4 linked regions of the Homo sapiens genome follow. Changing the gene in region 4 together with the main gene of any one other region gives a genetic interaction. Each region holds a gene or a part of one and is shown on either strand. Other genes may lie near its edges.

What was found.
Region 1: changes in ATR (region 4) and PRIM1 are lethal when combined (synthetic lethality), as found in Homo sapiens cells (2 studies listed by BioGRID).
Region 2: changes in ATR (region 4) and REV3L impair growth when combined (synthetic growth defect), as found in Homo sapiens cells (one study listed by BioGRID).
Region 3: changes in ATR (region 4) and PPP2R2A are lethal when combined (synthetic lethality), as found in Homo sapiens cells (one study listed by BioGRID).

The regions. Positions count from the first base shown.
Region 1 is NC_000012.12:56,749,320-56,756,788, reverse strand, and holds the start of PRIM1 (DNA primase small subunit), read left to right. Parts: upstream 1-4,465; 5' UTR 4,466-4,490; coding exon 4,491-4,593; intron 4,594-5,593; coding exon 5,594-5,751; intron 5,752-7,469. UniProt on the Homo sapiens protein: Catalytic subunit of the DNA primase complex and component of the DNA polymerase alpha complex (also known as the alpha DNA polymerase-primase complex - primosome/replisome) which play an essential role in the initiation of DNA synthesis.
Region 2 is NC_000006.12:111,375,190-111,382,221, reverse strand, and holds part of REV3L (DNA polymerase zeta catalytic subunit), read left to right. Parts: intron 1-777; coding exon 778-897; intron 898-2,002; coding exon 2,003-2,240; intron 2,241-4,378; coding exon 4,379-4,521; intron 4,522-5,464; coding exon 5,465-7,032. UniProt on the Homo sapiens protein: Catalytic subunit of the DNA polymerase zeta complex, an error-prone polymerase specialized in translesion DNA synthesis (TLS). Lacks an intrinsic 3'-5' exonuclease activity and thus has no proofreading function.
Region 3 is NC_000008.11:26,287,029-26,294,511, forward strand, and holds the start of PPP2R2A (serine/threonine-protein phosphatase 2A 55 kDa regulatory subunit B alpha isoform), read left to right. Parts: upstream 1-4,479; 5' UTR 4,480-4,791; coding exon 4,792-4,798; intron 4,799-6,187; exon of another isoform or gene 6,188-6,218; coding exon of another isoform or gene 6,219-6,255; intron 6,256-6,637; coding exon 6,638-6,712; exon of another isoform or gene 6,713-6,810; coding exon of another isoform or gene 6,811-6,832; intron 6,833-7,483. UniProt on the Homo sapiens protein: Substrate-recognition subunit of protein phosphatase 2A (PP2A) that plays a key role in cell cycle by controlling mitosis entry and exit. Involved in chromosome clustering during late mitosis by mediating dephosphorylation of MKI67.
Region 4 is NC_000003.12:142,568,734-142,575,733, forward strand, and holds part of ATR (serine/threonine-protein kinase ATR), read right to left. Parts: intron 1-7,000. UniProt on the Homo sapiens protein: Serine/threonine protein kinase which activates checkpoint signaling upon genotoxic stresses such as ionizing radiation (IR), ultraviolet light (UV), or DNA replication stalling, thereby acting as a DNA damage sensor.

The sequences.
Region 1 (7,469 bases), on a different chromosome or scaffold from region 4:
AGTTCAAGACCAGACTGGCCAACATGGTGAAACCCCATCTCTACTAAAAATACACAAATTAGCCGGGCATGTGGGCAGGCACCTGTAATCCCAGCTACTCAGGAGGCTGAGGCAGGAGAATGGCTCGAGCCTGGGAGGCAGAGGGTGCAGTGAGCCGAGATTGCACCACTGCATTCCAGCCTGGGCGACTGAGCGGGACTCTACCTCAAAAGAAAGAAAGAGAGAGAAAGAGAGAGAGAGAGAGAGAAAGAAAAAGAAAGAGAAAGAAAGAAAGAGAGAGAGAGAGAGAAAGAACTCCAAGAACAGTTTTTATATTTTATTTTCACATTGGAAATCAGTCAGATTTGTTTCAGCCTCAAAGAGCATGCTTATGTAAAATTAAATGACTGCTGGCAGCGAGCTGCACTTTTTCCTTCCAAACAGGAAAAGCGTTAAAAAAAAAAAAAAAAAAAAAAAGAGGCTAGGCGTGGTGGCTCACGCCTGTAATCCCAGCACTTTGGGAGGCTGAGGCGGGTGGATCACAAGGTCAGGAGATCGAGACCATCCTGGCTAACATGGTGAAACCCCATCTCTACTAAAAAAATACAAAAAAAATTAGCCGGGCGTGGTGGCGGACACCTGTAGTCCCAGCCACTCAGGAGACTGAGGCAGGAGAATAGCGTGAACCCAGGAGACGGAGCTTGCAGTAAGCCAAGATCGCGTCACTGCACTCCAGCCTGGGCGACTGAAAAAGACTCCGTCTCAAAAAAAAGAAAAGAAAAGAAAAAGAAAATAGGGATGATGTTGGCAACTACCGCATAGAGTTCTCATGAGGGATAAATTCATAAAATGGTACCTGACATCATGGCAAAAGCTATATACAGGAATACCTCATTTTATTGTGCTTCACTTTATTATGCTCCAAAGATATTGCATTTTTTACACATTGAAGCTTTGTGGCAACCCTACATACAGTGAGTCTATTAGTGCAATTTTTCCAACAGCATGTGTTTGCTTCATGTCTCTATGTCACATTTTGGTAATCCTTGCAATATTTCAAACTTTTTCATTATTATTGTATCTGTTACGGTGATCCGTGATCAGTGATCTTTGAGGTACTATTGTAATTGTTTGGGGGTGCAACGAACTGTGCCTATATAAGAAGACAAACTTAATCAATAAATGTTGTGTGTGTTCTGACTGTTCTGCCAATATGCTGTTCTCCTCTCTCTCTCCCTCTCCTCAGGCCTCCCTATTCCCTAAGACACAACAATATTGAAACTAAGCCAATTAACAACCCTACAATGACCTCTAAGTATTCAAGTGACAAAAAGAGCCCCACATCTCTCACTTTAAATCAAAACGTAGAAATGATTAAGCTTAGTGAGAAAGGAATGTTGAAAGCTGAGACAGACCAAAACCTAGGCCCCTTGCACCAAGCAATTAGCCAAGTTGTAAATACGAAGGAAAAGTTCTGTTTTTTTGAGACAGGTCTCAGTCTGTTGCCCAGGTTGGAGTGCAGTGCCCTAATCTTGGCTCACTGCACCCTCCGCCTCCTGGGCTCAGGTGATCCTCCCACCCCAGCCTCCCAAGTAGCTGGCACCACAGGCCTGCGCCACCACACCTGGCTAATTTTTGTAGTTTTTGTAGAGATGAGGTCTCGCTATGTTGCCCAGGCTGGTCTCAAACTCCTGGACTCAGGCAATCCTCCCACCTTGGCCTCCCAAAGTGCTGGCATTACAGGCGTGAGCCACTGCACTCGGCCTTAAATTTGAGACAGAGTGTTACTCTGTCACCCAGGCTGGAGTGTAATGGCACGATACTGGCTCACTGCAACCTCTGCCTGTCTGACTCAAGTGATCCTCCCACCTCAGCCTCCTGAGCAGCTGAGGCCACAGATGCATGCCACCACACCCTGTTAATTTTTCTGGGCTTTTTTGTTTGTTTGGTTTGGTTTGGTAGAGACAGGGTTTTGCCATGTTGCCCAAACTGGTCTTGAACTCCCTGACTCAAGCGATCTGCCCACCTTGGCCTCCCAAAGAGCTGGGATTACAGGTGTAAGCTATCAGGCCTGGCCTGGAAAAGTTCCTTCCCGGAAAAGTTCCTGAAGAAAATTACAAGTGCTACTTCAGGGAACACACAAATGATAGGAAGGTGAAACAGCCTTATTGCTGATATGGAGAAACTTTTAGTGTGCTGAATAGAAGATCAAACCAGCCATAACTTCCCTTAAGCCAAAGCCTCACCCATAGCAAGGTTACTCTCTTTAATTATATGAAAGCTGAGACAGGTGAGAAAGCTGCAGAAGTTTGAAGCCAGCAGAAGTTGGTTCATGAGGTTTAAGGAGAGAAGCCATCTCCATAAGATAAAAGTGCTAGACAAGGCTAGAGGTAGTGGCTCACACAAGTAATCCCAGCACTTTAGGAGGCCAAAGCAGGTGGATCACTTGAGGCCAGGAGTTTGAGACCAGCCTGGCCAACATAGTGAAACCCTGTCTCTACTAAAAATACAAAAGTTAGCTGGGTGTGGCAGTGCACACCTGTAATCCTAGCTATTTGGGAGGCTGAGGCATGAGAATTGCTTGAGCCTGGGTGACCAAGGTTGCAGTGAGCCATGATTGTGCCACTGCATTCCAACCTGGGCGACACAGCGAGACTCTGTCTCAAAAAAATAAGTAAAATAAAATAAAACTATGTTTTTCATGTGACATGTTATTCATGTGACTGCCCACTCTAGCCCACAATTGCCATAAGGTATCATTACACAGTAAGAGTGATTGGCAGATCTCCACATCAATAGCAGATGGGTTCCCTTCATACTTGTAAAGCTCTCCATGATTCTGCAAGCTTCCTATAATTCATATTTTCTTATACCTGGGTGTTCTATTTGAGAGACTAAATATATGAACAGCAGCCAGACCATATATAAAAACAGAACTCTGACCCACAATCTACAGCAACCTGCTGGGGAAACCAACCCCCTTATCTATAATAAACAGCACAGGAAGCAAGCTTGCTACAAGTCAGACTTGTATAAAGTCAAACTGCTATCTCTAATGATGATCCTGGAGGCCAAACAACAACCCCTGTAGCAATGGGCCCAAATGCCTTAACTAGTATCCTACAGCTTCCTTAACAGCTTCCAACATAGGTCCAACCAAAGAAAGCCAAACACCCACCCCTAAACCAATCACATACCGCATCCTACTACTAGTTAGCCCAGGTACAGCTTCTCCATGCCAACAGCCTCCAATCAAAGAATACCTTGACGGCTTCCCTTTTTTATAAAGCTTTCCTACTCCTCTGCCTGCCTTTGAGTCCTGTCAAATGCAAGTGATGATGGCTGACTCCCTTGCTATAGTAAGCTCTGAATAAATAGCCTATGCTTTTCTCATTTGGTTATTTATTTCCACATATTGGATCTAGTAATTCATGAAATTCCATGAAGAACTAATTTCCAAAACTTTTTTTTTTTTAGACACGGTCTTTCTCTGTTGCCCAGACTGGAGTGCAGTGGCACTATCATGGCTCACAACAGCCTGGACCTCCCAAGCTCGAGAGATTGATTGCCCCCTCCCCCCACTCCCCGCCCCCAACCCTTCAGCCTCTAGGGTAGCTGGGACTACAGGCGCACGCAACTACATCTGGCTAGTTGTGTGTGGGTGCGTGTGTGTAGACAGAGATCTCACAATGTTGCCCCAACCGGTCTCGAACTCCTGGCCTCAAGCGATCCTCCTGCCTTGGCCTCCCAAAGTGCTGACGTTACAAGCATGAGCCACCGCACCTGCCTACAAACGTTTTTAAAAGATACTGGTGTCGGCCAGGCGTGGTGGCTCACACCTGTAATCCCAGCACTTTGGGAGGCTGAGGCGGGCGGATCACGAGGTCGGGAGATCGAGACCATCCTGGCTAACACGATGAAACCCCGTCTCTACTAAAAATAAAAAAATAAAAAAATAAAAAAAAATTAGCCGGGCGTGGTGGCTGGCGCCTGTAGTCCCAGCTACTAGGGAGGCTGAGGCAGGAGAATGGCGTGAACCCGGGAGGCGGAGCTTGCAGTGAGCCGAGATCGCGCCACTGCACTCCAGCCTGGGCAACAGAGCGAGACTCTGTCTCAAAAAAAAAAAAAAAAAGATACTGGTGTTATTTCTAAAACATCCAAAAAGTTCACGTGGAGCATCCTTTTTACTTCATCTTAATAACCTAAATCAATATGCTATAGGTCTCACATTTCCGGAGAAGATCCTCTTCCTGGAATGGACGCGGCCTTCTGCCCACAAGAGCGGTGGCCCTAGTGCCCGAACGCGTGGGCAGATCGCAAACTGCTGCGTCTCCCGCAGCCCCCGCGCGCACCAAGTGGGAACTACAATTCCCGGCGGCCCCGGCGGACTGCGGGCCGCCGGGTCAGACAGCCGACCTCGGCCATAAGCGCCTGCGCAGTCGCGGGGCCGCCGGCCGTGCTGTTCCCGCCAATTCCTGTGGTAATCCTTACCGTGGCGAGTTCCGCGCTCAATGGAGACGTTTGACCCCACCGAGCTGCCCGAGCTGCTTAAACTTTATTACCGGAGGCTCTTTCCCTACTCTCAGTACTATCGCTGGCTCAACTACGGTGGAGGTGATGGAGGCGAGGAATGGGTTCGGGAGCGGAGTGTGAGGAGGTTGGAGGCGGGGTGTCCTTAGAATGACAATATGAAGCGCCTTCTGTGCACCAGGCTTTGTGCCGCGCGCCTTCATTTGCTCTCTCGAGCCCGCCCCACCACTTCATAGGTGTAAATGGGCCGAGAGAGGATATAATAAGCCAGCCTGCGGCCACGCTGTAAAAAAAAAAAAAAAAAAAAAAAAAACAGAGCCGCCGCTCCTACCTCTGCGTGGTCAGGCTCACATTAGGTGCCCCGTTTACCTGCAGCGGTGCCCAGGGGGTTACTGGGGCGTAGCGTGAAGCTGCTGAGGCATGGTTTGCATCAGGAGCGGAAGAGCCTCTCTCAGAGGAAGAGAAATACTTTCTTCCTTGCAGCTGAATTTATTAGTGCGAATCGAGGAGAGAGGGGTGGCATTACATATTTAAAATATTTATGCATCTGTTTCATCTTTTGTACCGTTCCCTAGCAAATACGGAATGGTAACTGCTTTCAAATTAGGGACTAGGTCATGTGGATTTTGTTTTGTTTTTCTTTTACATCTACCACGGTGTTGAGCATAGGGGGCTCATTAAAAACATCTTCTCGGGCCGAGTGCCGTGGCTTACGCCTATAATCCCAGCACTTTGGAAAGCCGAGGAGGACGGATTACCTGAGGTCAGGAATTCGAGACCAGCCTGGCCAACATGGTGAAACCCCGTTTCTACAAAAAATACAAAAATTATCTGGGCATGGTGGGTCGCATGCCTGTAGTCCCAGCTACAGCCTCGGGAGGCTGAGGTGGTAGGATCCCTTGAACCCGGGAGGCGGAGGTTGCAGTGAGCCTTTATCGAGCCACTGCACTCCAGTCTGGGCGACAGAGCAGGAAGCAAGCAAGATTCCCTCACCGAAAAAAAAAACTTCTCATTGGCTAAAATTATAATGCCCTGAGCCAAATAAAGTAGCAAATTAACTTTAAAATGTACATTTATTTTGCAGTGATAAAGAATTACTTTCAACACCGTGAATTTTCATTCACATTGAAAGATGATATTTACATTCGCTACCAATCCTTCAACAACCAGAGTGATCTGGAAAAGGAGATGCAGAAAATGAATCCATACAAGATTGATATAGGCGCAGTATATTCTCACAGAGTAAGAAATCTTTTTTTAATATATTTTGTTGTTTTATTTTGTAAACCAAGAATGGGTTGATTCCTCTTGCGTTTTGAGATTAAATTTTTAGAGTTTATTCTAGATGAAAAGCCACTTTTTAATTGTTTGGCAAGTGATTAATCCTTTTTTGTTCTTTGACGTTCTGCATTACTGATGAAATCATTTGGGAGTGAATTGGTTGCATTTTTACTAGGACAAAAAAAATTGAGTATCTAGCTACTAGGAAGAGGAAGTCGACATGATTTAGGAAAGGGAAATAATTAGCCGGGCGTGGTGGTACGCGCCTGTAATCCCAGCTACTGAGGAGGCTGAGGCAGGAGAATCGCTTGAACCCGGGAGGTGGAGGTTGCAGTGAGCCAAGATCGCGCCATTGCACTCCAGTCTGGGCGACAGAGCGAGACTTGGCCTCAAAAAAAAAAAAAAAGAGGGAAATAAAAGAGAATTACATTCTCTTCCACCATGGAAGTTATTCTTTTTTTCTTTTAATTGTTTATTTTTATTGAGGTCAAATATACATATAAAACTTATTATCTTTACCACGTTTAAGTGTACAGTTCAGTCATAATAAACATTTATATTCTTTTTCCTTCATACCCCTGGAGTTATTCTTGATTCCTCTCTTTCTCACATTCCCATACCCATTCTATTAGGAAATCCCTTTGGCTCTACCATAAGTGTATCTAAAATCCAGCCACTACTACCAGTGCTACCAACATTATCATCTCATCTGAATTACTGTAAAAACCTCCTAACAGTTTGCCTTTGTAGAATCTAGAGTCCATTGTCAATACAGAAGCTAGAGTAATCCTTTTAAAACAACTCAGAATCTGTGATTCCTCTGCTGAAAACATTCTCTGGTGGCTGCTCATTTCACTGACTAAAAGTCCTTCTCTCCCCCTCATTCATTCCTGCCACACTGACCCTTGCTCAAGCTGTTTCCACTGCCTAAAACCCATTTCTATACTTGGTTCATCCCCTCACCTCCTTCAAATCTTTGCTCAAATAGCACCTTCTCAGTGAGGTCTACTAAAACCTGCCACTCCTCCCACCCCCTGCCACTGGTATATTCTAAGTACCCTAGAAGAGTGCCTGGCAAGAGACAGTACACTATAAATATTTGTTGAGTGAATGAACAAACCAAAATTGCCCTTCTTCCCCTTCTCAAATATATACACTGGTGGGTGGAGGGAATACATACATAGCATAATAGCTTTTATGTGGAGTTTTTCATGTTATATAACTTGTTACTTGTATCAATCCTCATTCTTTTTACAAAGGAGGAAACAGGCCCAGAGAACTTGAATAGTTTGCACAAGCTCACACACAATTTCTAAATGATAGAGCTGGCACTTAAACCCAGGGTTTCTGACTCTAAATCCCAGACCCGTCTCTCATCATCAAAGTAAGGGGAGAAGAGGTAATAAAAGGCAGGCAGAAAAAAATACTTTGGAGTTGTTTTACTTCCCCTTTATAGGTTGAGAATAAAACTGAAAATGAACTTCTAAGAAGGGTTAGGGTGCCACTCTCTACTTCCTTCTCCTTAATTTCTAAAGGGAGAAAACGTCTCATTTTTTTCTTGGGCCAAGACAGAAGCATCTATAGACCTTTATTTACTTTTTGTGTTTTGTTTTGTGATTTTTGTCAGTTATGTATGCACATGGTTTACAAAATCAAGTACTTCTATTCGGCTTTTAAAA
Region 2 (7,032 bases), on a different chromosome or scaffold from region 4:
GTGGGTAGTTCAGTTTGGTGTTCCTTCAGGGGACGGCAATTGTTGGAGGATTCCATATGGCCACATGGACTAATATTTTTTGATATCATGAAAATGTAATGAATGTGATATATAATGAAAGCTTTCTGAAAAATATTAATGTAAAATGAATTTTTTAATTGCTTAACCATTTCTTTGTATTTTTATAGCACTTAAAAACTATTTCTGCCCAGTTATGGCAATGAAATGGGAAACCACAACTACAGTTCACAAACAGGCATGAAAAACCAACACACGCCCCATTAGGGATTACACTAAGCTCTTTATTTTTTATGCATTCAAAAGAGAGTCCAATACACATGTGTCAAATAATGAGCACTGTCAATTTTTTTTTTCTAGGAGAGTTCAAAAACATTTATTCTAAATTTGTTGTTTTTGAACCATAGAGAATAAAGAATTTTAGTATTCAAATAAGATAGTTTATCTTTCCTTTTCACTTTATATATTTGAATATGCAGTGATTTTTATCAGAGTAATATAACTACACACATTAAGTAGGATTAAAGAGGTTATAAATATTTGGTGATTTATAGATTCAGTGTTTGTTTTGATAAATCCATGTGACTGGTTAAATATTTCTGTGGCTTTTTATTATGTTTTTATTTGGCATGCATCATTAACATTTTGAAATTTAAAATAGGTTTATATGGTAATGCTTCCAAATTTACACAAATTCTAAATGATAAATTTTGGATTTAGGCCATTGCTTCAATTTTTTTTATTCTTTGTCAAATTAAGGTCACACTAGACACAAAGTGGAAGAAGCTCTTATTAATGAAGAAGCAATTTTGAACCTTATGGAAAATAGTCAGACTTTTCAGCCTTTGACCCAAAGACTGAGTGAGTCACCTGTTTTCAGTAAGTAACAGTGCTACCATAAATATTCAGTATTGTAATTCAGAGAAAATGTGTGTTGTGAAGAGGCATTTTTTTTTTTATTGACTTGAAGAGGTAAATGTTGCATGTTCAGTAAACACTCTACTGAATATGAAAATGAAACCTTGCATTAAATCAAGTAGCTTTGCTTTTTTTCTATACAGCTTAAAAAAATTTGTGAAAGAAAATAGTTTTTTTAACTGTACTTTGATTCACGGAAAACCGTATTACTTAAGAAGGAAAATGCATTTATTTTGAATTAATATTTTGCAAAGTTCAGTACATTACTAAAACACCATAAGTGGTTCTTTCTTGGTGAGTATCACAAATTTCACCGGAGGAAACACGGGTGGCTAGGGCCATGGTCCCAGCCTCCTCATCTCACTGGCCAGGGCTGCACTCAACCAGTCCTTCAGTGGCCTCCCCTTGAGTGGCATCTCAGGCTTCCTGCAGCCACTGCCAGCCTTCCCTGGCAAGGCCTCCCAACTAGGGGCTGACAGTGCTGAGCTGTACCCACGGCCAAGACCCTGTGCAGTCCCAGGCAGCCCTGGCTGGAGCACACAACAATGTTATTTTAATAATGTCCCTAAATTACTCTAATGCAGGTGGTCCAAGGATCAACTTTGATAGGAGAGCTACCTCAACACCTGAGCCTTTGTACCAACTGTATTCTTTCAGCCTGTGCCAGTATCTATGATGTTGTTATTTTATTCTGAGTGATCTGAATTGTTGGATTATTAAGAAAACAGGCCGGGCGTGGTGGCTCACGCCTGTAATCCCAGCACTTTGGGAGGCCGAGGCAGGCAGATCACGAGGTCAGGAGATCGAGACCATCCTGGCTAACACGGTGAAACCCCATCTCTGCTAAAAATACAAAAAATTAACCAGGTGTGGTGACGGGCACCTGTAGTCCCAGCTACTCGGGAGGCTGAGGCAGGAGAATGGCATGAACCCAGGAGGCAGAGCTTGCAGTGAGCCTAGATCACGCCACTGCACTCCAACTCCAGCCTGGGTGAGAGAGCAAGACTCCGTGTCAAAAAAAAAAAAGAAAACTTATTTGTTGGTGATTATTGTACTTGTTTTATAGTGGACAGTAGTCCTGATGAGGCTCTGGTACATCTTCTTGCTGGTTTGGAAAGTGATGGATATCGGGGGGAAAGAAATAGGATGCCATCACCATGTCGCTCCTTTGGAAATAATAAATATCCACAAAATAGTGATGATGAAGAAAATGAACCACAGATTGAAAAAGAGGAAATGGAGCTTAGTTTGGTGATGTCCCAGAGATGGGACAGCAATATTGAAGAACATTGTGCCAAAAAGAGGTAATTTTTTAGTTATTGCAGTTGTTTTATTAACTTTTATCATTATTGTCCTTCAATCAGAAATTATTTATTACTATTGTTCATGATATAAAATACCTTATGAACTAAATTGATGTTTTAAAATTCCCCTTTAGTGATCTGTTTTTCATATGGCGTATACTCCATATTCCAAGCAAAATAAAGTTTTGCTACATTTTAAAAGATTAACCTAACTTTTAGAAGTTATCCATTTATATACACAGTATTAACATATGTGAGTGATAAATGGAGCAAAATTGAAGTGCCTTCTTATCTTAGAACTTAAGAAAAAGAATGCCCTGTGATAGTTGAACTGTTGGGTATCAGAACAACAATGTATAGAGTCAGCCTGAAGACAGGGTATGGTTTTGGGCTCTGATTAGACTAAGGGAACTAAGGTTAAAAACAAATAAATAAAAGACTAAGAAGCAAACACTGGTGTTGTGGTTTGTTTCTCAAAATAAATGAATAAGTTGGTGTTGTGGTTTTCTAAATCAGTCTCTGTGAACTTGATTGGTTTGAGTCTGCCCTTTAGTTATATGCTCTGTGTATAGAAAAATCTAGGCCTATGAGCCTGAAAGACTGAGTATGCCTCTCCTTTAAACTTCTATAGGCTAGATTAGAACTTTTTTAGTCTGTATTTGAAATTTCCAACCCAAAGCCATCACTGAAAGGTGAAACAGGTTAATCCATAAATTCAGTGTTTACATGTATATGATGAAAGTTTTTATTTTTCTACTTAATAAATCAGATATAGAAATCTCCAGATGTGATGTTAAATTCTTTCCTCTAACATTGTCACTGCTGTAATAATAGGCATAGTCAATCCTATGATTAAATTTATGTTTGTATGTTCAGTGGCTGAACCAATTTGGTGAAAACCATGCCCAATTTAACCTTGGGAAAACAAACCTAAACATTTTGTACACATATATTAGAGAGAGATTGAATAGTAGAAGCATGGTGTCTAGAAAAGGGTTTAGTTAATTCTGCTCTTTATATTGGATATTATATTCTGTGCTGAGTACCATATTTTAAGAATACTGAAAAAGGAAAGGGAAAGAAGAGGAAGAAAACTAGAAGGATCTGTGAGCATTGTCACTTTTGAAGAACTTTTGAATGGAGAATGTTTGATCTAATTAGAATTACAAGATGAATGAGAAATGCCTTTATGTATTTTAAAGATTATCATGTGGAAAATGACATCAACCTGCTCTGTATAGCTACAGAGAACAAAATAGGAATCATGTATGGAAGTTGAAAGAGTTTGTGTATTACAAGAAGACAACTATGAATAATTAAAGCCATTAACAGTGGAAAGATTGCCCTGTGAGACAGCAAGCCCCTTATACAGATTATGTAAAAACAGAGATTGTGTCAGGTTCGTTAAAAATGAGGTTTTCGCATTGGGTAGAAAGTTGGACTGGACCTCTGATACCTCTTTCAGCTCTTAAGGGAGTGATTTTTATGATAAATTGTGATTTGGAAAGGCTTAATGGAAAAACAGTTCCAGTATAATAAGTATAATAAAATAATAATAATTTCAAATTGTTGAGATTAGTGAAAGAAAAAATTGGGTATGGATAGGAAAAAAGTTTGCCCATTCAATTAAAAGGGAAAACATCAAGTTAATACCAATATGAGATGAAACTTAAAGACTGGACTTCACTGTCCATCTGAATTTCTCAGTAACCCTTTGTAGTTATTGTCAGGTTGACTGAACACCTTTACTACTTCCTATTACCCTCTCTCTTCTTCAGCATTTTCTCTTCAGCCCTGACCTCAATGCCCCTTCACTCATCTTTTTATTCTTGTTTCTTCCAATTCAGAATGCAGGAATTGTGGTGTATTTTAGCTCACATGAAAGGGATTATGAAGTCTAATTATAATAACTCTTTGTAAGTTACTATAGTAAGACATGTTAATAAAGCAAAGTAAATATGCTTTTCTAGAAGTTACAATTTTCAGATTTTTTGTATTGTTTTACTATAGAGTAACTTAGATACATTATTATAGTTAACTTAGATACATTATTATAGAGTTAACTTAGATGCATTATTTGCATCTGAGATGGTCTTTACTAATGATCATGCTCACCAGTGAATTTTAATGTTCTCCAGATCACTGTGCAGAAATACCCACAGAAGTTCAACTGAAGATGATGACTCATCTTCAGGAGAAGAAATGGAATGGAGTGATAACAGTTTGCTTCTAGCCAGTCTTTCTATACCTCAGTTAGATGGAACTGCAGATGAAAATAGTGGTAAGTAAACAAGTCTACTGTGAGAAATTGGTTATTCACGATCTAAAAATGTATTTGATTTTGAGGCTAGGCGCTCTGGCTCACACCTGTAATCCCAGCATTCTGGGAGTCCAAGGTGAGAGGATCACTTGAATTCAGGAGTTCGAGACCAGCCTAGGCAACGTAGTGGGACCCCCGTCTCTAAAAAACTAAAAAAATTAGCCCAGCATAGTGATACATGCCTGTAGTCCCAGCTACTCAGGAGGCTGAGGTGGGAGGCTTACTTGAGCCCAAGGGTTTGAGGCTGCAGTGAGCTGTGATTGCTCCATGGCATTCCAGCCTAGGCAACAGAACAAGATTCTGCCTCCAAAAAAAATAATAAATAAATAAATATGATTTTGAAACTTTAATCATACTTTCTATTGATTTTGAAACTGTAATCATACTTTCTATATAGTTGGCTAAGGGAGGCTATAGTGATGTTTCGTCCTTCAGGATTTTTTTCTTTTGAAAGAATTAGATACATGATTTGCTTCTCATTTCTAAAAGGATATAACATTTGTTGACCACTGAATTCAAGCTTTGAAAACTTTAATGTTTGTTGTGCAAGTAGAATAATAAACTGAAAAATATGCTCAGTTTATTTGAAGTGATAATGTAAAGCATATTATTTTATGAACATTTTTAAAGTGACAGTATTTTTCCCTTATGCCCCAAAGGAACTAAATAGTAATATAATCTATTTCTGATCAATGGAATATTTGTTTAAAATGATGACTAATAATTGTAACTAACTATATTTAGATTGAGTCATTAATGATAAGCATTACCTTTTTGTTAAGATAACCAAACTTAATTTGATGTAATTTTTTCATAGTGATAGCATTAATATCTTGGTGTGGGAAAATGTCTTAAAAATTAAAAGAGTAAAATGAAATAAACTGTTTTTCCCTCCTCATTTCAGACAATCCATTGAACAATGAAAATTCTAGAACCCACTCTTCTGTAATTGCAACAAGCAAGCTTTCAGTTAAACCCTCCATCTTTCACAAAGATGCTGCTACATTAGAACCCTCATCTTCTGCTAAGATTACCTTTCAGTGTAAACACACAAGTGCCCTTTCTTCCCATGTTTTGAACAAGGAAGATTTAATTGAAGACCTTTCACAGACAAACAAAAATACAGAAAAAGGTCTAGATAACTCAGTCACTTCTTTTACAAACGAAAGCACTTATTCTATGAAATACCCTGGATCTTTAAGCAGTACTGTTCATTCAGAAAATTCTCATAAAGAGAATAGTAAGAAAGAGATCCTCCCAGTATCTTCCTGTGAAAGTAGTATTTTTGATTATGAAGAAGATATTCCATCTGTTACAAGACAAGTACCAAGTAGAAAATATACAAACATTAGAAAAATCGAAAAGGATTCCCCTTTTATACATATGCACCGTCACCCTAACGAGAATACATTGGGCAAAAATTCTTTCAACTTTTCTGACTTAAATCATTCAAAAAATAAAGTATCCTCTGAAGGAAATGAAAAAGGAAACAGCACAGCTCTGAGTAGTTTATTCCCTTCATCATTTACTGAAAATTGTGAATTACTGTCATGCTCAGGGGAGAATAGAACTATGGTGCATTCTCTTAATAGCACTGCTGATGAAAGTGGACTAAATAAACTTAAAATTAGGTATGAAGAATTTCAAGAACATAAAACAGAAAAGCCAAGCCTCAGCCAGCAAGCAGCACACTATATGTTTTTTCCCAGTGTTGTTCTTTCTAACTGTCTTACTAGACCACAGAAACTATCTCCTGTCACATATAAATTACAACCTGGCAATAAACCATCCCGGTTAAAATTGAATAAAAGGAAACTTGCAGGTCATCAGGAGACTTCTACCAAAAGTAGTGAGACTGGATCCACAAAAGATAATTTTATACAAAATAATCCTTGTAATAGTAATCCTGAGAAGGATAATGCATTGGCTAGTGATTTAACTAAAACCACTCGTGGAGCTTTTGAAAATAAAACACCCACAGATGGTTTTATAGACTGTCACTTTGGAGATGGAACGTTAGAAACTGAGCAGTCCTTTGGACTATATGGAAATAAATACACACTTAGAGCCAAACGCAAGGTAAATTATGAGACTGAAGACAGTGAGTCAAGTTTTGTAACTCACAACTCAAAAATTAGTCTACCTCATCCCATGGAAATTGGTGAAAGTTTAGATGGAACTCTCAAATCCCGAAAACGAAGAAAAATGTCTAAAAAGCTGCCCCCTGTCATCATAAAGTATATTATTATTAATAGATTTAGAGGGAGAAAAAATATGCTTGTGAAGCTAGGAAAAATAGACTCTAAAGAAAAACAAGTAATATTAACAGAAGAAAAAATGGAACTATATAAAAAGCTTGCACCTTTGAAGGACTTTTGGCCAAAAGTTCCCGACTCCCCTGCAACCAAATATCCCATTTATCCACTAACACCAAAGAAAAGTCACAGAAGAAAGTCAAAACATAAATCTGCT
Region 3 (7,483 bases), on a different chromosome or scaffold from region 4:
GAATGACTGAGATCATTGTAAAACGTCTTTCTTCCACAGTTAAGGGTGAGTGACAACATTTATGATATGGCAAGCATTGAGGAGTCAACATTTCAGTGGTTTTCTTTAAGCCAGAGAGATTTATTCATTCATGCATTAATCCCACAAATTATGTGGCTGATGATATGGCAATGAATGGCATACTTCCTACCCTCAAAGAACTCAGTGTAGTAACAGACAAATATTTAGATAATTTGAGTGTGGTCTAGAAAGACAGAAGTGAACTGGATTTTACAAGAATATTGAGTAAGGGTGCCCAGCCCAGCTTAAGGTGGGTAGGAAATGGGGAACAATGTCAGAGAAGCCTTCCTGGAGGAAGTTAACATTGGAATTGTTTTTTAAAGAACAGTAGTTTTACTGGCTGAGGAGGAAGAAGGACGGCTGCTGGGAGTGTTGGGGTGGGGGTGGCGGGGTGCGTGGGAGTGTTGGGCTGGGGGTGGCGGGGTGTGTGGGAGTGCTGGGGTGGGGGTGGCGGGGTGTGTGGGAGTGTTGGGGGTGGGGTTGGCAGGGTGTGTGGGAGTGCTGGGGTGGGGGTGGCGGGGTGAGTGGATGGTAGTGCTCAGGAAAGGGACAGCATCAACCATGGTATGGAGGGGATGTGGAATCAAGACTTGTGCCTGGCAGCACTATGTTTGAAATGCTAAATGGGCATCTAGAAATGTCACATAGGCATGCAGAGGTGTGTGTCTACAGTTCCAGGGTGAGGGCATAGCTGGAGATCTAAATTTAGCAGTCCCTGGTATATACATGGTATTACATGATATTTACTTAAGACTAAATGAGGTTGCTCGAAGAATGTGTAGTTACACAAGGGACCCCAGTACGGAGGCTGGGGAGACAGATCACCGTAATATTTATTTATTTATTTAGAGACAAGATCTTGTTCTGCCACCCAGGCTGGAGTGCAGTGGTGTGATGATGGCTCACTGCAGCCTCGACCTCCTGGGCTCAGGTAACCCAGGTAGCTGGGACTACAGTCACGTGCCACCACACCTGACTAATTTTTTTGTATTTTTTTGTAGAGACAAGGTCTCCTTTTGTTGCCCTGGCTAGTCTCAAAATCCTGGGCTCAAGTGATCCTCCCAACTCAGATTCCCAAAGTGTTGGGATTACAGGTGTGAGCTACTACTCCTGGCCACCACTCTAATATTTAGAGGGTAGTCTAGGAGAAGGAGCCAGCAAAAGAAACTACAAGGAATGGCTAGACAGGTGGATAGGTTAGGGGGGGTGACAAATAAAGTGTCAAGGGGAAAAAAAGAGTCTCAAAAAAGAGGGATTGATGGATGGTTTCAAATGCTGCTGGGAAATACAGAAAAATTAAAACAGAGAAGTGACCACTGTAGCAACATACAGATCATTAATGACCTTGACAGAGGCTATTTAAGTGCAGTGGTAAGGGCAGAGGACAGAGTGGAAGGTAGAGCCACGTGTGGAAGCACATGCCTATAGTCCCAGCTACTAGGGAGACAGAGGCAGGAGGATCACTTGAGCCCAGGAGTTTGAGGCTGCAGTGAGATATGATCATGCCACTGCACTCCAGCCTGGGTGACAGAGCTAGACTCTGTCTTTAAAAGAAAAAAAAGTTTTGTTTTTTTTTGTTTTTGAGAGGGAGTTTTGCTTTTTGTCGCCCAGGCTGGAGTGCAATGGCTTGATATCGGCTCACCACAATCTCCGCCTCCCTGGTTCAAGCGATTCTCCTGCCTCAGCCTCCCGAGTAGCTGGGATTACAGGCACGCACCACCACACAAGGCTATTTTTCTTGTATTTTTAGTAGAGATGGAGTTTCTCCATGTTGGTCAGGCTGGTCTTGAACTCCCAACCTCAGCTGATCCACCTGCCTTGGCCTCCCAAAGTATTGGGATTACAGGCGTGAGCCACCGTGCCTGGCAAAAATGTTTTTTTAAGTGGAAGATAGATATGGAAGTGAGATGGACAAGAGCAACCCTTGACTCTGGGCTAGCGGGTGTTCTGGCCTCTCCTCCTAATGGCCATTCTGATGAAAGGGAGGTGGCTTATGGTCCTCTGAAAGGGCTGACCAGGGCCCAAAAAGAGCCAGGTCGTTTACACCAGGGTGCCAGGGTGCACTGGCCCTTGATTATCAGACCCAAGTCAGCCCATTCCACAGGCATGCAGTACCCCCAAGGCTCCAAATAATGTTCTTAAAACAGCACCTGGCACAAAGTCGGTGCTATATACATTTTTGTTATAATTATCCCAGTTTCTAGGCAAGCTTTATTGGCTTCTAAGAACAAATCATTTATGTAAACCAAATCATTTTCAGGGTATGTAAAGTCTATATTCTCTTTTTCTGTCTTCCTTTCTCTCTCTCTCCTTCCTTCTGGGTTCTGGTTAAGATGGAGAGCTCTCCCTGGAGAGTCTGGGATTGAACCACCAAAGAAGGGCAGAGCAAGCAAAAAGGAAAATAAATGAAGGCATACCCAGAGAAATACATTTATGAAAAACACCAGCATTGAAGAAAATACAGCACGCAGTGCACTGAAGTTTTGTACCTGTTGTACAGGTAGCCAAAAGATGACACATAGAGGGTGGATTTTTAGTTTTGATTAATTCATTGGTAACGTGGGAAATATTCATGCAGAAACAGAGGAATGATCATGCAGTGGTGCAGTTGTTCCTTTGAAGGAATTTTGAACGTTGCATTACAGTTCAACTGTCCTGGAAATCAAAAATATGGTAGAAAGTGGAGATGGTGGGGAGGACGTGTAAATATCTTTAACTCCCCCTTCTTGGTTTCCAAACGCCTTTATCACTCCATTCAGCCTTAGGCCAAATTCTGGATGCTTTTACAGGTGTTTTTCACGTGTAAAATGTGCATATCTATCTCCTAGGAGTATCGTGGAGATGGAATGGGATATGTAAAGTGTGCTGTATATAGCAACTGCATCATTAGAGCATCTTTCAACAGAAGTGCACATCCCCTCATAGCTGATGACTGGCATTTCCTGTTCATTTTTTTCCTTCTACCTCTTAACCTTACTGACGATGCTTTCAATACAAATCTAATAATAACGGCAGCTAACATTTATCATGTGCTCAAATTAAGTCATTTCATCTCCCCAACAATCCTATCAGGTAGGACTGTCATCTTCATCTCCTGAGCCTTGGAATCATATTAGGCAGCCTGGCTTCAGAGCCCAGCACTTTTTGTGTTTTTGTTTTTGTTTTGACAGGATCGCATTCTGTCTCCCAGGCTGGAGTGCAGTGATGTGATCACATAGCTCACTGCAGCCTTGACCTACTGGGCTCAAGCAGTCCTCCTACTGCAGCCTTCTAGTAGCTGGGACTATAGGCACGCCATCATACCTGGCTAATTTAAAAAAAAAAATTTTTTTTGGAGAGATGGGTCTCCCTATGTTCTCCAGGCCGAACTCGGAACTCCTGGCCTCAAGCGATCCTCCCACCTCGGCTTCCCAAAGTGCTGGGACTACAGGCGTGAGCCACCGCGCCCGGCCCTGAGCCCAGCTCTTAAGCACGCAGTCCAACACGTTTAGCTGGAGAGACGCCGGGTCACTTCTTGGGCCATACCCTCTCATCACAAACTCAGGTTTCTCTTAGAAATCACTCTTAGTGTCCGCAGTGCCTAGGACTCCCGCCTTGGATCCTGGGGCCCACGAGAAGGTAATTTAATTCACCCAGATAGAACCAGCCCAATCGTGTCCCTCTGAACCCCGTGAACTTTCACCCCGGCTGAGCAGTAAGTCTGCACCGCTGTCCCTTTCTTTGTGGTCTCAGGGCTAATCCAAAGTGACAATTTCCTAAGAAGCAGTACGGGGTTTTTTGTTTGTTTGTTTTTTGTTTTTGAGACGGAGTCTTGCTCTGTCACCCAGGCTGGAGTGCAGTGGTGCGATCTCGGCTCACTGCAACCTCTGCCTCCCGGGTTCAAGCAATTCTCACACCTCAGCCTCCCAAGTAGCTAGGATTACAGGCGCACACCACCACGCCTGGCTAATTTTTGTATATTTTTAAGTAGAGACGGGGTTTCACCATGTTGGCCAGGCTGGTCTCGAACTCCTGACCTTGTGATCCGCCCGCCTCAGCCTCCCAAAGTGCTGGGATTACAGGCATGAGCCACCGTGCCCGGCCCAGGTATTCCTAGAAGACATAGGACCCCATGAATCCTTGCAGGAGAGCACGTAAACTGGACTCCTAAGCCCGCCCCAGAGCCCCGGCGCTAGTGCTCGAGGCTGGGACACTGCTAGGTGCACACAGCCGCGGCCTGGCGCAGGCGGTGCGGACAGAGGGTATGCCATGGCGAGACGCTGGCGCGGCGCAGGCCCTGCCGGCCGGGACACGGAGGGCGGGGCACAGGCGCAGCAGGAAGGGGGCGTGGCCAAGAGCCGCCCGGCCGCTCCCCCGCCCCTCCCCCTCCGCTCTCCGCCCCAGCCCGGCGGCTCCGCCCCCTAGGTGACGTCACTGGCCAGGCCAGCCGGCGCCATTTTGAAAGTGGAGTCGCCTGCCCCTGCCGCTGCCGCCGCCGCCGTCGCTGTCGTAGTCGCCGCCGCCGCTGCCGGAGAAAGAGCACGAGCGGGGAAGCCCCAGAGTGAAATCTAGCATCCTGCCGGCTGGTCTGCCCGCCCCTCCTTCCTTTTCCCCCCGGCCCCCGTCCCCTCCCCCCGCAGGTGCCATCCGCCGCCATCCGCCCTCTCTACCCCCCCATCCCCAGGTGAGGGGGGTGAGTTCAGGAAGCGGAGACCCCGAGGAACCCAGCAGGGTCACCATTTGCAGCGCAACATGGCAGGTAAAGGAGAAATCCCCCTCGCCCCCTGACAAGGCACCGCTTCCTTATTCCTCCCTCCATCACCCCCTAGCGACCGCCCGCGCCTCGCGCAGAGCCACAGGGCGCCCCTCGGGTTTGAGGGAGTAGGGTCCAGAGGGGTGGGGTGGGGGCGGGGAGGGCTCCCGGGAGGCAAGTGGTCACGGTGAGAGTCACTGGGCTTGGAGAACGGGGCTGGCGCCGTGGCGGGGGTGGGGGTGGGGTGTGCCGGCGAGCTTGGGGTGAGGCGTGGGTGGGGCGGGGTGGGGGTGCGTGCAGATTTGTCCCTCCCGCTCGGGAGCCTGGTGGATCTTCTCCCACCTCCCCACCTTGCCCCCCGCCTTTATTTTTTTTTCCTGCAGGTCTTCATTTAATTTCTATTTTTCCCCCTGCTGCAAGCCTTCTTGGGTGTATATACACATTTATTTTGCCTCGAGAAGGAAGAGCGCCTTATAAGTTAAAATACAGTGGGGGCATATGTGTATTTTTTCCCCACTGTAGATGCCAATATTTTTGAGACTGGAAGCCTAAATTTTTTGTTTCGAACCATTTCGTTTCCGTTTCTTCCCTTTTACCGCCGAAGAGTGCAAGGCCTTTCATGTACAGCAAGTTGCATGAAAATAATTTAAACTTTGCGTTTAGCATGTTAGCTTTTTTGCAGATGTCCTTTTCCCAAAAGGGTTTGGTAGAGTTAGTTAAAATAGTTGCGGAGTTCAGAGATATAAATAGCAAGGAGGAGAGAGATTTAGGTAGAAGCTTTGAAGGGGAGGGGAAAGGATGTAGAGAGAAAACCAGTTTGGAAATAAATTTAGCAAGGAATAGGGGTGATGGGGGAGAGAGAAGTAATGTAATTGCTTTGAGAATTCTTTTTGTACATGTTGGTATTGCTAAATCTTTTCCTTCATGTAGTAGAATCAGTTGCAGATTTAGATTCAGTTTCTTTCTCCCTAGAGCCCCAGGACATTTTCAATCATTTCGACCTCAGTACTTGCACGTGAAATAGAAACATTCCGAGATGAGACCAGTTTTCCGTGCTGTATTCATTATTTAGATAATTAAACCTTTTGAAAAAGTTAACATGTCGGATTGACTTACGGTTTGCTATAAACAAGTTGCTTGTTGGCCTTGTTGAAAAATGAAATGAGATTAAAATTGTTTTGCACGAGATGACATTAGCAAAATGAATTCTTTGCCAGGTCCTTTGGAGTCAAGGGATGAGGTGAAGGGAGGCAGAACAAGCTTCCTTTGACAGTCTCTTTAGCAGCATTCATTTCGGTTTCTTTTCCTCTCTGTCTGGAGCCAGTGATTTGCTGGTAATGAATGCAAAGAAATGGGTGTAGTGTTTGCTGTGTGTGCACTTTGGTGATAAGGTTCATATGAATCATTACTCCTTACCCAGGCAGTAATGTTCCCGAAGTTTTCTCTTCGTTCTATGTTTCATGGTAGTTTAACCTTATTAACTCTTCTGCAGGCTTTTTGTACACTTAAGAAAACTCTTTAACTCTTGGTATTTACTTTTTTTCTGGTAGGTCTTGCCTGAATGTAAGGCTTTTACTGTATTTGACAGGAAGTTTGTGAACAGATGTTTAATGACCACAGAACATGTGCCTTTAAATATTTCGTACCTGGAATCTTTTTTTTCTTTCTAATGCAGTACCAAGTATTGGGGACTAACCTCTTTCCAAACTGGTGCTCTTGGTGGTAGTTGTATGTGTGGGCAGAACTAGGCTGTTAGTATCATGCCAACCATGGATACCATCTTTGTGTTTACGAGAGTCAACATAAGCAGAACTCGGTTTTAATTGGTATGTTTTCTTTTTCCAGGAGCTGGAGGAGGGAATGATATTCAGTGGTGTTTTTCTCAGGTGAAAGGAGCAGTAGATGATGATGTAGCAGAAGGTAAGAAAGCGTTTAATGCAAAATTTGGATATATAATTTTTGCAGAAATGTTTCCTACTGGAGGATTTCCTTGAAGCCGAGACTGCTATAAATTCAAGATGATTTTGTTGTCCAAGAAATGTAAGAACAGTTTTAAAAGATACCTTTCTGAAAAACAGCCTTAAATTTCATTTGTTATTTACGCCTTGTTTTTATTATTTTTTCCTCTGAATTTACATGGAAGGAGCGGTAGATGATGAGACATATAAGATCCTCACATGAAAGCTCTGAGCTCCATATAAGGGTTTCTTTGTTATGTAAATTCCACATACAAATAAATGGTGATGCATTTTTATGTTTGTACATTGGTTTTAGATAAGTAAATTGAAATAGGTGCCATCAACATTTGGCTCAGAAACATTCTTAACGGCATCTTTGATTTTTATGGGAAGATTTTTTAACTACTTTTGAATTTGTCCACTTTGGGAGTGTGATGCTGCTTGGCATATTCTGTGAAGAGATGATAGCTCAGATTATTCATTTTGTTGTCTTTCTGGTATTTAGGTGGATAAGACAGTAACAATGCTATGCATATATCGCTTGTCTTTTAGGAATCGTATATTCTTGTGCAGGTAGAAACTGTGTTTGATCAGTTGAAGTACTTACGTCTAATTTTCTCCCCAAATTTATTTTCTAACGTGTTTCAGAAGTTTAAGTTTTGAAACTTCAAGGTTTTGCATTCATTTGAGATGGTCTTAGGCAGCGGAGGCATTTTCCACAAAGTTGTTGCAT
Region 4 (7,000 bases):
CCTGGCCTCTCCCCGCTCCCGGCACCCACACCAATTTCGGAGCAAAGTTGTGGGGGAGCCCAGGTGTTGTCAGGACCAGGCCGCGTGTGCATGTGCTCAGGACGGCACTGACACACCAGCCCCCTGCTGCCTCATCTCCCTCTGGACTTTGGGCAGGCCAAGCGGTAGGCTGAGGGCAGCTCAATATGGGCCTGCAGGCGCCCCTCGGCACGAACAGCCTCGGTGTAGTGGGTGGCAGGTTGATGGCAGCAGGAAGTAGGCTCCTGGGAGGAAAGGGGTGGGTCCCCAGTGAAGACCCACCTTCAAGCCAGGAACAGCTTGAAGCCTGGAAGCCTGGCTGCCAGTTACACGGACCACAGCGAGAACTTAGGGTGCTTTTTCCAGGCCCACCCATGACTGCCTATGGACCAATTAGCATTCACTTCCTCCCTTCTGAAGCACATAAAAACTAAATTTTTGGTGGAACGCTAATACCCTTTTCCACAGTGGCTGTACCATTGTACACTCCCACCTGCAGTGGACAAGGGTTCCAATTTCTCCACATCTTCACCAACACACGTTATTTTCTGGGTGTTTTTTTATTATTATTTTATTTTCCCCTTTTGGCGACAGGGTCTAACCCTGTTGCCCAGGTTACTGTGCAGTGGTGCACCCATAACTCACTGCAGCCTCAACCTCCCAGCCTCAGGAGATCCTCCCACCTCAGCCTCCTGAGTAGCTGGCACCACAGGTGCATGTCACCACACCCAGCTAATTTTTTGTATTTTTTGTAGAGACAGGGTTTCACCACGTTGCCCAGGCTGGTCTCAATCTCCTGGGCTCAAGCGATCTGCCTGCTTTGACCTCCCAAAGTGCTGGGATTGTAGGCATGAGTCACCATGCCCAACTGTGTTTTTTTTTTGTGGGATTTTTTTTGTTTTTTGGTTTTTTTTGAGACAGAGTCTTGCTCTGTCACCAGGCTGGAGTGCAGTGGCATGATCTCAACTCACTGCAACCTCTGTCTCCCGGGTTCAAGCAATTCTCCTGCCTCAGCCTCTCAAGTAGCTGGTACTACAGGCATGCACCACCATGCCTGGCTAATTTTTTGTATTTTAGTAGAGATGGGGTTTTACCATGTTGGCCAGGATGGTCTCAATCTCCTGACCTCGTGATCCGCCTGCCTCAGCCTCCCAAAGTGCTGGGATTACAGGCATCAGCCAACATGCCCAGCCCCAACTGTTTTTTTATTAATAGCTATCATAATGGGTGTGAAACAGTATCCTGTGGTTTTGATTTGCATCTCCCTAATGATTAGTAATTGTGAGCATCTTCTCATGTGCTTATTTGTCCATTTGTATATCTTCTTTGGAGAAATGTCTATTCAAGTTCTTTTTCTGTTTTTCATCAGGTTATATTTGTTGTTAAGCTGTAGGAGTTCTTAATATATTCTAGATATTAAACTCCTTATCAGACATATGATTTGCAAATATTTTCTCCAGTTCCATGGGTTGCCTTTTCACTCTATTGATACTGCCCTTTGATGCACAAAGTTTTTAATTTTGATGAATTCCAATTTATCTGTTTATTTTGCTGCCTGTGCTTTGTGTCATATCAAAGAAATCATTGCCAAATCCAGTGTCATAATGTTTTCCCTCTATGTTCCCTTATTTTTATTTATTTATTTACTTTTTGAGACAGAGTTTCACTCTTGTTGCCCAGGCTGGAGTGCAATGGCGCGATCTCAGCTCACCGCAACCTCCGCCTCCTGGGTTCAAGCGATTCTCCTGCCTCAGCCTCCTGAGTAGCTGCGATTACAAGCATGTACCACCACGCCTGGCTAATTTTGTATATTTTTAGTAGAGACAGGGTTTCTCCATGTTGGTCAGGCTAGTCTGGAACTCCTGACCTCAGGTGATCCACCCATCTTGGCCTCCCAAAGTGCTGGGATTATAGGTGTGAGCCACCATGCCCGGCCCCCTCTATGTTCACTTCTAAGAGTTTCATAGTTTTAGTTCTTATGTTTAGGTATTTGTATGCCTTTTGGACTTTTAAAATTTTCCTGTAGCAGTAAAGAGAGAAGCCAGATTGCAAGGGGCTGAAAATCTAATGAAATGTGAATACTGAGAATAGCGGGTTCTTTCCAAAGCTTGATCATGAAATGAAGAGAAGTAGAGTTGGTGATAACTAAAGAACTGTATGAGATCAAGAGGGCTTTGTTTTGTTTCTCCCTTATAATGGAAAGACCTAAGCAACCAATTCTTGAGATGTGACTCCTCTTCTTGGAACCAGATATAAGTAAAAAGACAATCCTTGGACAGGAGGGTAACTCTTTCATAAACATAGAAAGAATGGATGGGTACAGACGCAAATAATTTAATAAATTCAAAAGGCAAGTAAAACAAGATCCTCTGCTTCAAAGAACTCAGAATAGTTGCTGGGGAGAGGAGAGGAATGCACTTAAATAATCAAAAGCGGCCGGGCATGGTGGCTCACGCCTGTAATACGAGCATTTTGGGAGGCTAAGGCAGGCGGATCATGAGGTCAGTAGATCTAAACCATCCCGGCTAACATGGTGAAACCCCATCTCTGCTGAAAACACAAAAATCAGCTGGGTGTGGTGGCGGGCGCCTGTAGTCCCAGCTGCTCAGGAGGCTGAGGCAGGAGAATCGCTTGAATCTGGGAGGCGGAGATTGCAGTGAGTCGAGATCGCGCCACTGTACTCCAGCCTGGGCGACAGAGCGAGACTCAGTCTCAATAAATAAATAAATAAATAAATAAATAAATAAATAAATAAATAATCAAAAGCAAGTATCATGTACACCCAAAGCAGGGAATGATTAACTCTACCTAGAGGATTCACAGTGGGTTATGTGTGAGTGATTAGCAAAGTCCATCACTTCTGACAAAACAACTTAGGGTGTAGTAAGACAGTTACTTATAAATAATAGCATATATTTCATATATGTCACAATTTATTTCTATATAGCACTGTAAAATGTTCATACATTTTCCCCACTTATTATCTCAAATAGTGGTAAAAGAAAAAGAGTGAATTTTTTTCTTTTTCTGATACAGAGTCTCGCTCTGTCGGCCAGGGTGAAGTGCAGTTAGTGGCACGATCTTGGCTCACTGCAACCTCCGCCACCCGGGCTCAAGCAATTCTCCTGCCTCAGCCTCCCAAGTAGCTAGGATTACAGGCGTGTGCCACCACACCCAGCTAATTTTTGTATTTTTAGTAGAGACGGGGTTTCACCATGTTGGCCAGGCTGGCTCGAACTCCTGACCTCAGGTAATCCGCCCGCCTCAGCCTCCCAAAGTGCTGAGATTACAGGCGTGAGCCACCGCACCCGGCCCTTTTTCTTTTTTTTTTCTTTTGAGACGGAGTCTCGCTCTGTCGCCCAGGCTGGAGCGCAGTGGTGTGATCTCGGCTCACTGCAACCTCCGCCTCGCAGCTTCAAGTGATTCTCCTGCCTCAGCCTCCCGAGTAGCTGGGACTACAGGCACGTGCCACCACGCCCGGCTAATTTTTTGTATTTTTAGTAGAGACGGGGTTGCACCATGTTAGCCAGGATGGTTTCGATTTACTGACCTCATGATCCATCCGCCTCGGTCTCCCAAAGTGCTGGGATTATCGGCGTGAGCCACCACGCCCGGCCTGACTTTTTTTTTTTTTTTTTTTTTTTTTTTGATTATTCAAACCACAAAGTCCAATCCTAATTGATTACATATAGGATCAATAGCATTTACAGCTAATAAATGCCATAAAAGAACTGATACTGGTCGGGCATGGTAGCTCATGCCTGTAATCCCAGTGCTTTGGGAGTCCAAGGTGGGCAGACTGCTTGAGCTCAGGAGTTTGAGACCAGCCTGAGCAACATGATGAAACCCTGTCTCTACAAAAGAAATAGAAAAATGAGCAGGTATAGAGACACACACCTGTAGTCCCCAGCTACTCAGGAGGCTGAGGTGGGAGGATCGCTTGAGCCTGGGAGGCTACAGTGAGCCAAGATTGTGTCACTGCACTCCAGCCTCGGTGACAAAACCAGACCCCTGTCTCCAAAAAATAGAAAAGAAAAAAAAGAACTGTTCTCTGGTCCTGGTACATAGTAGACATTTAAAGAAAAAAAAACAACTCTTCAATGAATGAATGGTTCATAAGAACCTTCCTGAATTTTGTGGTTTCTTCATTCCTAATGTACAGCCTTCTGGACCTATGGAATATTTACCTATTCCCTGCCACTAGACTATAAGCTCCTACAGGTGGCAGACTGTGCTTTATTTCTCTCTGCATGTCCTAAAGTGCCATTAGACCGTAAGCTCTTATAGGAGAGAAAATGCATTTTATTTCTTTTTGCCTCTGCTACATCACCTAGAACTTGCTTAATAGAAAAACTTACTGAAATTAACAAATGTTTTTAAGTAACATAAACTCTAGACACAAAGAATCAAAGGGCCAGGCGTGGTGGCTCATGCCTGTAATCACAGCACTTTGGGAGGCTGAGACGGACTGATCACTTCAGGTCAGGAGTTCCAGATCAGGCTGCCCAACATGGTGAAACCCTTTCTCTACTAAAAGATAGAAAAATTAGCCAGGCGTGGTGGTGGGCGCCTATAATCCTAGTTACTTGGGAAGCTGTGGCACTGAGGCAGGAGAATCGCTGGGACATGGAGGTGGAGGTTGCAGTGAGCCAAGATCGCACCACTGCACTCCAGCCTGGATGACAGAGTGAGACTTCATCTCAAAAAAAAAAAAAAAAAAAAGCAAGTTTGTATATGCTACTAAATAAAGTCCTTAAAAAAAAAAAAGAATCAAAGAACAAGTAGTTACATTTGCATATGAAAGCAAAACAACTTAGTGCTATGTATCTTATTTAAATCAGCGCTGGCCAATAGAAATATAACGTAAGCCATAATTTTGTTATTTTCTGGTAGCCACATTAAGAAAAGAAACAGGAAAAAAACAATTGATCCTAACAATATATCTGAAATATTAGGTGAATGTGTAATCGATATAAAAATTATTCATGAGATCTTTTACATTCTTTTTTCTGGTACTAAGTCTTTGAAACCCACTGTGTATCTTATATTTACAGCACATCTCAATTTAGACTAGCCGCATGTGAGGTGGTCAATGGTCACATTTGGCTAGTGGCTACCATAGTATAGGGCATCACAAATTTAACAAAAAATTCAAAATCTGTAATTACAAGGTAACATGAATTGTTTTAGACAAAGTCAGGAGACATTATGATAAACCACAGTAATTTCACAAGTATCATTTAAAAATGTGAACAAAGAGGAACATGGGAAGAGGAGCCAGGATTGTGGGTAGTGGTCAGAGTTTCTTACAAAGTTTCATTTTGTAAAGATTATGTACTCATGTATTATTTGTGTAATTTTTAAAAATCAGTTTTAGAAAAATGTAAATTGATTACCATTCATTAGATCTACTATCAGAAGAAAGAAACTTGGCCGGGCGTGGTGGCTCATGTCTGTAATCCCAGCACTTTGGGAGGCTGAGGTGGGCGGATCACTTGAGCCCAGGAGTTTGAGACCAGCCTGGGCAACATGGTGAAACCCCGTCTACAAAAATACAAAAATTAGCCAGGCATGGTGGCACACACCTGTAGTCCCAGCTACTTGGGAGGCTGAGGTGGGAGGATCGCTTGACCCCAGGAGGCAGAGGTTGCAGTGAGACATGTTCATGCTATTGAACTCCAGCCTGAGCAACAGGTGAGCCAGTCTCAAAAAAAAAAAAAAAAAAAGAAAAAAGAAAGAAAACTCACAGGAGTGAGCACTTCTTATTTTGTGACTTCTACCCTGGAACTGAGCTAAGAGGGTATAACTTTTCAAAAGCATACTATAAAATTTGAGTATTAATGTAAGTATTATATAAAGCTTAGGCACCTCCTCTGAGGTAAGCATCAAATACCAGGATAACCAAGACAGAATGCACCTGCCCTAAAATAATTTGCAGATTAAAGGACAAACAAGAGGTAATTATGGTTAAGAACTGACAGGCCCAAGAAAGAACACAAAGGGACACTCAGCCCTGAGCAGGGCCCTGTCAGTCATGGCTTCCTTAACGAGGTGATACAAAACTGACTCCCTAAGGGACAAGGCAGTGAAATAAGGGTAAGAGGGAGGGTAGTCCAAGCACTGGAAACTGTAAGAGGCTCTATGTGGCTAAAGCCTTTAGAGATGCAGCTGAAGAGGGAAGATAAGGTTAAATTTCAAAGGACTGGCTAAGTAGTTTGGATTTTACACTGAAGGCAATGTGTAAGCACTGAAGGATTTTAAGGAAGTAAAAATTAAGCAAGTTTTAAAAAACTTGCTTATTTCCCTGTTTAAAAGATTCCAATGGTTTCCCATCACACAATAAAATCTCACTCCTTTTTCTAGCCTCCAAGGTGCTGAAGGATGTGGCCCTTGCCTACCCCTCCCTGTTTAACTCATACCACTCCCCTCTTTACTCCCTGTGCTCCAGCCTTCTTACTATCCTTTTAAAAGTAGGCTCATTCAGCCTTGGCATGGTGGCTGAGGTGGGTGCATCACTTGAGGTCAGGAGTTGGAGACAACCTGTGCAACATGGTAAAACCCCATCTTCACTAACAATATAAAAATTAGCTCGGTGGTGCAAGCCTGTAGTCCCAGCTACAGGAAAGGGAGGCTGAGACAGGAAAATCGCTTGAACCCGGGAGGCAGAGGTTGCAGTGAGCAGAGATCACGCCACTGGAGAGGGCGAGACTCCGTCTCAAAAAAAAAAAAAAAAAAGCAGGCTCATTCCCACTTATGGGCCTTTGTACTTCCTATTCCATCCCAGATTCACGTGACTAGCTTCTTTACACCATCAAATCTCCTCTAGTGGCTAATGCTGCTGCTCCTCAGAACCTCCTCCACATCCCACTGTTCCATTTAACATTTTAATAGCAACTATCACATTTGAAAATGTCTTACAACTACAAAGCAATCTCAAGTAGGAAAATCAGAGAAGGTGATTCTGAAATGACATCTAAATGAA